Linked DNA regions of Homo sapiens. The protein of the gene in region 2 purifies or fractionates together with the protein of the main gene of each other region. This does not show direct contact. Each region holds a gene or a part of one and is shown on either strand. Other genes may lie near its edges.

Region 1 (3,832 bases), on a different chromosome or scaffold from region 2:
GAATAAAGTGGGAGAAATGCAGAAAATAATCTTATTTTATAAATGTAGTTTTCAAAATCATATGAAGTCACTGGAAAAATATGGTGAGGTAAATACTGAAATATATCCTTTTCTCAAAGGGAGGATAATGTCACACATGCAGGGCACTTTTACAAATAAAAGTCACTGCATTAGCAGCACCTTCCTTTTAGCACAAGGGTCAGCAAATAAGCACCTGTGGGCCAAATCCAGCCCACTGCCCGTTTTTGTAAGTCAAGTATCTTGGAACACAGCCATGCTTATTCACTTTACAGTCCATAGTGTCAGTTAGCTGGGTGTGATGTTGCACACCCGTGGTCTCAGCTAGTAGAGACTGAGGTCAGAGGATCACTAGAGCCCAGAAAGTCGAGGCTGCAGTCAGCCATGATCACACAACTGCACTCCAGCCTGGGAAACAGAGTGAGACCCTGTCTCAAGAAAATCAATATATGTAGTCCACAAAGCCTAAAATATTTACTAACTAGCTCTTTGCAGAAAAAGCTGGCCAACTCCTGGTTTAGTAGATCAAAGATTCTTTGATGTATTTTAATAAAAGTTTTACCAAATATACTGAAATGTTTATATTAAATATAGATCCCCATGTACAATCGCTTGGCAATATTCAGATTGAGGGTCCAATATTTCAGCACTCAGGCACTGACAACAAAAATTTAGTAACTAGCAATCTTGTTGCTAACAAGGTACAGTGTCAATGTAGCATGTAGCTTCCATTTGCAACACAGCAGATATTACAAGAAATTTAACAAGAACTCTTAAGATGTGTCATCAAACTAAACGCTTTAAATACATTTTAATTGTGAAATAATCAGTATACCCTACATCTAACCTCATTTTTTAAAAATGGTTGCATAATACATTATTTTGGGGATATGGAAATTGAGCTATTTCCTATTGATAAGGAATTAGACTAGCTCCAAATTTTTTACATAATACTATAATAAATGTCCTTATACATAAGTATACATATAACATATCTATACAAATATCCTTTACATGTATTATATATGCTTACTGTTATATATGTGTGTGTGAATATGCTACTCAATTAATGTTCAAAATGTATTTACCAACAGTATATGAAATGTCTTTTTCAATGAAACCATTTCCCCTGCAGCAACACGGATGGAGCTGGAGGCCATTATCCTAAGAAAACTCATGCAGGAACAGAAAATCAAATGCCACATATTCTTACTCATTAGTGGGAACTAAACATGAGAACTCATGGACACAAAGAGGAGAATAACATACACTGGGGCCTACTTGAGGGAGGAGCATGGCAGGAGGGAGACGACCAAAAAACTACCTTTCGAGTATTTTGTTTACTATGTGGCTGGTGAAATAATCTGTACCCCAAGCCTCCATGATACAGTTTACCTATATAATAAACCTGCACACGTACCCCGAAGCTAAAATAAAAGTTCACTGAAAAGAGAAGAAAATGTCTTTTCCCTCACATTTGCCAATACTGGTTATTTTTCAAATAAATTAATGACTGGAAAAAAAACGGTAACTGATTGTTTGCTGATTTTCATTTTTCTGATTAACAGGCAAGGCTCAATATCCTAATAAAAGTATAAAATTTGTTCATCATGAATATTAGCTCAAATTAGGATTAGTTTGGCAGCACAAAGTTACCTCCTGTTCAATGTTGCCATAGGCTTACCTGTGATACTCTTCATTCTCAGTGTCAGGAAATTGCTGGCTTTCAGGTGTTCTGCTCTTCCTTGGAGGAATTAATCCATCATCACCATTGCCAGCAGTGGCACCATTAGTCAGGTTTTCTGGGAATCCGACATGAGTACTTCTGTGCTTCTTCATTTCTTCGATAGCCATAAAATTTTCTAGCTGGAAAATACAGAGAATAAGAAATTATCTACTTTAGGCACATTATCTATTGATAATCAGACTAAAACCAAGAAAGATAAAATAATTGGTCTAAAGCTCCTAAAGTGGCATTACCTAGCATTTTATGGCACCATTCGGGATTATTCCATAATAATGAAAGAATAGCTCTAGGGTTTGCACCTCTTCAAAATTCAATGTACAGAATTCTGAGTTAACTATTTAATTTTTCACTGATGATTTATGCTACTTACATGATAGGATCATGTATGCCTACATTTACTACACTTTGTTAAACAACATAATGTAAAAATCTAATTCAACACAAACGTTTGAATATAAAGGTATACCTCTCTATCACCATCCTTATTTATTTCTGGTTCTTGAGATCTTTTCTGCAGATGTAAAAACAGAAGGTTAATTTGCTTGTTGTATTTCTGTGACATTTCCTCTTTTGGAGTGCATGTTTTTAAAATAATTTTATTCTGAAGTAATCAAGTATGGACAATAAAAATTAGAAAGTAATTAAAATTAAACTGTTAAAATAAATAATAATTAAAATTAAGAATTAACTTTTTAATCTATGTTTAGCTACTGCCACATCACTGGCTTCTAACATGTGAAAAATAATTCACCTTAGACAAAGGGAGAAGAAAAACATGAACCAGCAAACTTAACTTTCTCACTATTTGTTTGGACTAAATTTAATTTGTTATGTGTTAAATCTACCAAAAATGAATCAGCAGATGATTTGTAGTGTTCCAAAATCTTCCTCACTTGAAAAGAGTTTACCTCATGAAACCCTAACTAGTGAGCACCTACAGTGCACTGAAGTGCTTTTTTAAAAGATTCCTAACTGGATTGTAGGCACCCTTTAAACTATTAGGAGCCGAAATCAACACCAAACAGAAAGAAATGCAAATTCTCACATTTTAATTGAAATTATATACTGTCATATGATAGTGTTATGTATCCAGATTATCTGCGTAAGTCCAGTTCTAATATATTCTAATGTGTACTAATGACAGCAGATAAAATTTTTTAATCTCTACTGATTTTCTGCAACTGAAATAAATTAGAATGTTATTGTGTTTGTGCACTAACACCAAAGGTCCCATTCTGCAAGATATGGTTCTTGTAATAGGCAGTTGGGTTGCTTTTATGACCTGGTTCCCTCCCTGAACAGAAACACTGAGGTCAACGAGAGACCACAAGGCAGGATATGTCCTTAACCTTGGTATCAGTGACTGACAATATAAAACTGTGGATTTTCAATCACAGGCCATGATTACTCTTTAACCATGAATCCAGCTCAGGGAATCAGTGTTACATTGTTCATAATTCCTATTGCTTAATAATATGATTCAATCATTGATGTTACTTTCTTTATCATGTTAGGGTGTTGTAAAAATAAAAGAACAAACAAAGTTCTGAAATTTGTTTTTGCCTCTATTCCAAAAGGAGAGATTAGCTATAAGCTAATCAAGAAGGCAGATAAGAATATTTTAAAATAAGAGTATTTTAAATTTTATAGTGGGTTATGTTGAAGTTAAATATCAAATATTAAATTAGAATCTATTGATTCTTCTGTTAATAAGGTTGCTGATTTTATTACAATAAATTTTAAGAATCTATTAAAATTTTTTTTTTTTTTTTTTTCACATGGAGTCTCGCTCTGTCACCCAGGCTGGAGTGTAGTGGTGGATGTCGGCTCACTGCAAGCTCCCTCTCCTGGGTTCATGCCATTCTCCTGCCTCAGCCTCCCGAGTAGCTGGGACTACAGGCACCCACCACCACGCCCAGCTAAGTTTTTGTATTTTTACTAGAGACGGGGTTTCACCATGTTAGCCAGGATGGTCTCGATCTCCAGACCTCGTGATCCACCTGCCTCAGCCTCTCAAAGTGCTGGGATTACAGGCGTGAGCCACCTTGCCTGGCCAAAAGATTCTTA
Region 2 (4,437 bases):
TTCTACCTGAATCCATGGAAAATTTCCTAAATGGTTGGCTCTTTACAGTGTGGCCCTTCTGTAATTTAATCCATTGAATATCTTGGAGGCTCTTCTTAAAAAAGAGAATCGTTTCATATATATTTATTTCTTAACTCTTTTTAGTAGTTTTTCAATGTTCTTAATAAATATTTCCACTCCTAATATGTATCTGGCTCTAATTTACCTCTTAGTATGATCTAGATTCTTAATCATTCCCTAAAAACAAAACCTGAGGACTTGAGAACTGTCCTGACCACTTTATCTGCTTTCCCTTTTTGTCTGCCTCTCCCCGCCATTCTTTTACCTATTTCTGCATATTGTTCAGCTCTCATCTTACTAATCCATGACTCCAGGATACTTTCTATTATCTCCACTGATGCTTTCTTGATATTGGGTTTTTCCTTGAGATAATAGTTTTTTAAAACATTTTCATTAGTTACTTTTCTATATTTCAAAGTAGAATGTAAGGTATGTGCAGACGGAAACTGTCTATTTTTTTTCTCTGAAATTTCTGCACTTACTTGTGTTTTGTGCTAATCCCTTTATAAATATTCTTTGAATGAATGACAAATACCTCCTTAGGTGTTGCATAATCAAGACTTTAATCAACCCTATTTTCAAAGTCTCCTTACTATTCCTCTCTATTTGTAATATGCATAAAACTCACATACATGTGATGGTATTAACATATACATGAGTTTCTATTTGGTATCTGCTTTACACCACCTACTTCCCATCTTTCTTTCAGTGTAAGTCAAACATTTTGAATGAAGGCTATAGACTCATTTCTACTGAAACTTCGAAGCCAACAAAATAAAACCAACGAAAGTATGTTTACCTTAGGTAGGGGTTTGGCAGGTTTGCAGTGGAGTCCTCCAACAAAATCAATGTTTGGTAAGAATGGATGAGGAAATTGAAAACTCCAGGAGTTTCGCATAAGCCATATGTCAGCTTTCCCCATTGTCTCAAATAAGGTAGTGGGTCTTCCTGACAGGAATAAAGAAAAGAAAAAGTGGATGATGTAAGATAATTACTTTACATAACTTTCTGAAAGGGGTTAGAATTATGTAGGCAAAGATGTAGGTAAAGTTTGTGTGCTTTGAAAAATATATACATATATTCATGTATATGAATAATATATTTTTATGTATTATATATTTTGTCCATGTTTATTTATAAGAAAGGCAAAGTGGTGGGAGAATTATGAAGTTAAGCGACATCTCTAATGTCAAGTCAGTGTACTCACAATTATTAAAATAAGTCATAGAAAATTAAACATCAATTTATTTTCTCTTTAAAGCTTCAATAGTTGCATATAGATATTTAAACAACTCTTTGAGCTCCATAATCAATTAATTCTACTGTACCCATAAAACCAATTTTCTAACAGTCCAGTTTACACAACTCCTTAAGCTAATCCTTTTATCTTTGGTTCTTCAAGTGAACTCGGACTATTTTGAGAGTATGGCAGAAATCCTTGTACCAACTACTCATTTGGATTTGAGCTAAGATCTTAATAATATTATCATTTAAGTAAATATATTTGTAAATTATAGCTAGAAATTTTTGAGAAATTATTGAAATAGAGATCTGTACTCAACCTTAATCTGTCTCATATTTTTAAATAAAGAGACATAGTTTCAAATAAACTATATAGATATAACAACCTTCACACTTCAACAAGATAATTGGACTTTAAATGAATGAATTCCAATTCTTTAGTGAAGGAGTATAGAAACATTAGAAACTTCAAATTACCCTGATTAACTTTTGCATCTGAGATGTGGACATTATCTCTCTCTACTGTGAAGGAAACCTTCTGGAAACATGGGAATATCTTTTAATACCTAAAAAAGAAAACTGAGGTTTACAAGGAAAACTTTCTGCAGTTATATAGATAGTTGTAGAAAAATGTGTAATTACTCATTCTAAATCTATGCATTCAGTAAGATGTTACTTGATGGATTTCACTGTTTTTAAGATCTAAAACATTATATAGTAAAACAGATGTGTAATTGCTTAAAGTCTTAGGTGTACTAATATATAGGTTTATGATTTCCTGGGGTGTTCTGTATGAGTGATGGCCACAGGGTTTTAACAGACCTTATAATTTAAGCTTTTCTATAATGTTTGTGAGATTGATAGATCATCTTGTATTTTCATTTCATAAATTCACTTACCAAAAACTCCACTTCCCTGACTTTATGGCTTTATATAAGCTCTGCTTCAAAGACACAAATAAGTTAGATCTTCAAGTTCCCGATTAAACAAATTCTTACCTAAAACTTCACTGTAAAACTGATCCCACTTCTTCATATCACACATTTGGAACCAAAAGTCAAAATAAAGCACATAGATCATGTTTTTTACCCTCTCCATGAAAGTCATTTGATCACTTAATTTTGACATAACAACAGGTATGTAGGAAGGAGGGAAAATCAGTCCTCCACTGTGCCTTTCAATTGTGTAGCCAGGAGTGAAGCAGAGACTGTACACAAACGGTATGTTAAGTAGCGCAGCCAGCAGCTCACCACAAGGAAAAAAAGCATCTGCAAAAATGATGTCAAATCTTGACTCTTGTAGTTTTTTCATAACTTTCTTATTTGAAACTACATCTTTACAGAAGTTTCTAAATATGTCATGAAATTCCCACAGGATTTCTTGTTCTTGTGAAAAATATAACCAAAAGCTATCTTTTTGAATGTCTGACCATCTCTTAACCTGTTGCATGATGATATTCTCAAATTCAGTTTTAGTTAAAGATGTAGGATAAACTTCGAGTTTAAGAGTGAATGCGTCATTGGGATCAAAAAGAATGGAAGCTGAAGATGCCAGTACAGTCACCTCATGACCTCTCTGAACAAGCTCTTTCAGGATTGTCTTCATATTCATCCAATGGCTGTATTCACCGGTCCACACCAGCACCTTTCCACAACTCCCAGAGCTAAAGTAACAACCGAGATGTATCAGCAGAAGAACTGAAGTCCACTTCAGAGCCATCCTGGTGCAATGCAATCATTCTTTTCAAGTCACTGTTTCTTTCTCATACTTATATACAGAGATAAATCAATCAAGTTAAAACATAACTCCTTCAATCCAAAGTAAATATATTATAGGAGCATCCTGAGTACATGGATGACAAGGAGACAAAGTTTGATTACTTCATATTTACTCAAGGATGTTTGATGTTTCTTTTATGTTTATATTCGCTGTCATCCACCTAAGATTAATGACCTTGCAAGTACCCTGTTTTATGTAACCTATTTTATAATAGTGTCAAGAATAGTGGCAAGTGAGAGAGTCCTGCAGGGCCCTTGACACAGAGTAAGAGATGAAGTGATCGTACAATGCAAATAGCGTTTTTGAATATCGTGGTTCAAGGAATATCTTGTAAAACTTTGTTGAAGTATAATTCAAATACCATATGATTCATCAATTAGTATTTAAAATTAAGTATTTCCTTGTAAATTCACAGACTTGTGCATCCAACATAACAATCAGTTTTATCTAAAAAAACAAAAAACTCCTGTGTATTAGCTCTCATCTCCCCACCAAATTTCTGCACCCGCCCTGCACTGGGCAACCAGTAATCTAATTTCTGCCTCTAGAAATACACCTATTCAGGCTCTTTCTAAAAGTAAATGGAACGATATAATATGTGGTCTTTTGTGGCTGGCTTCCTTTACTTAGTTTAATGTTTTTAAAGGACCATCCATAGAATAGTGTAAATAAGGACTTCATTTTTATTGCCAAATAGTTATCAGATGCTATTTATAAACACAATTTATTTATTCATTTAATAGTTGATGGATACTGATTTACTTCCACTTTTGGTCATTATGAATAGCATTGTTTAACATTGATGTGCATGATTTCTGTGGACATGTTTTTATTTTTCTTGGGGATATGCCTAGAAAGGCAATTACTGAATTATGTGGTAAATGTAAGTGTAATCTTTTGAGGAATTGCTAGACTTTTTCAGAGTGGGTGAATAATTTTCTATTCTCACCAACAATGTATGAGGGTTTCAATGTCTCCACAACCTTGCCCACCCTTGTCTTTCACATAACCAAAAAGGTTATTTTTTACTTCAATTTATAAACACACTCTAACAGACCCCAAAAAGGAAGGTTTCCTTCCACATATTGGAGGGAAAAGTGAATAAATTAAGTACTAACTTACCTAATACTTCACTGTACAACTGATCCCACTTCTTTCTGTTAAAAATCTCAAATGCAAAGTCAAAATGAAGAAAATGCAACAGATTTTTCACCTTTCTACAAATGTATATTGGTACTAAGTTCTGATATGACAACAGTTACATCAGAAGGAGGTAATGTAAGTCCTCCACAGAGTTCTTGGTACATACTGCCAGTTGTAAATTGATGATTGTAGACCAAATGTATAACAAATGTT

What was found.
Region 1: the proteins of UGT2B28 (region 2) and POTEF purify together in Homo sapiens (affinity purification with mass spectrometry; one large-scale study listed by BioGRID and IntAct). This does not show direct contact.

Annotation. Positions count from the first base shown.
Region 1 is NC_000002.12:130,084,112-130,087,943, forward strand, and holds part of POTEF (POTE ankyrin domain family member F), read right to left. Parts: intron 2,277-3,832; coding exon 2,232-2,276; intron 1,885-2,231; coding exon 1,703-1,884; intron 1-1,702.
Region 2 is NC_000004.12:69,279,085-69,283,521, reverse strand, and holds the start of UGT2B28 (UDP-glucuronosyltransferase 2B28 isoform 1 precursor), read right to left. Parts: upstream 3,048-4,437; 5' UTR 3,022-3,047; coding exon 2,301-3,021; intron 1,009-2,300; coding exon 860-1,008; intron 1-859.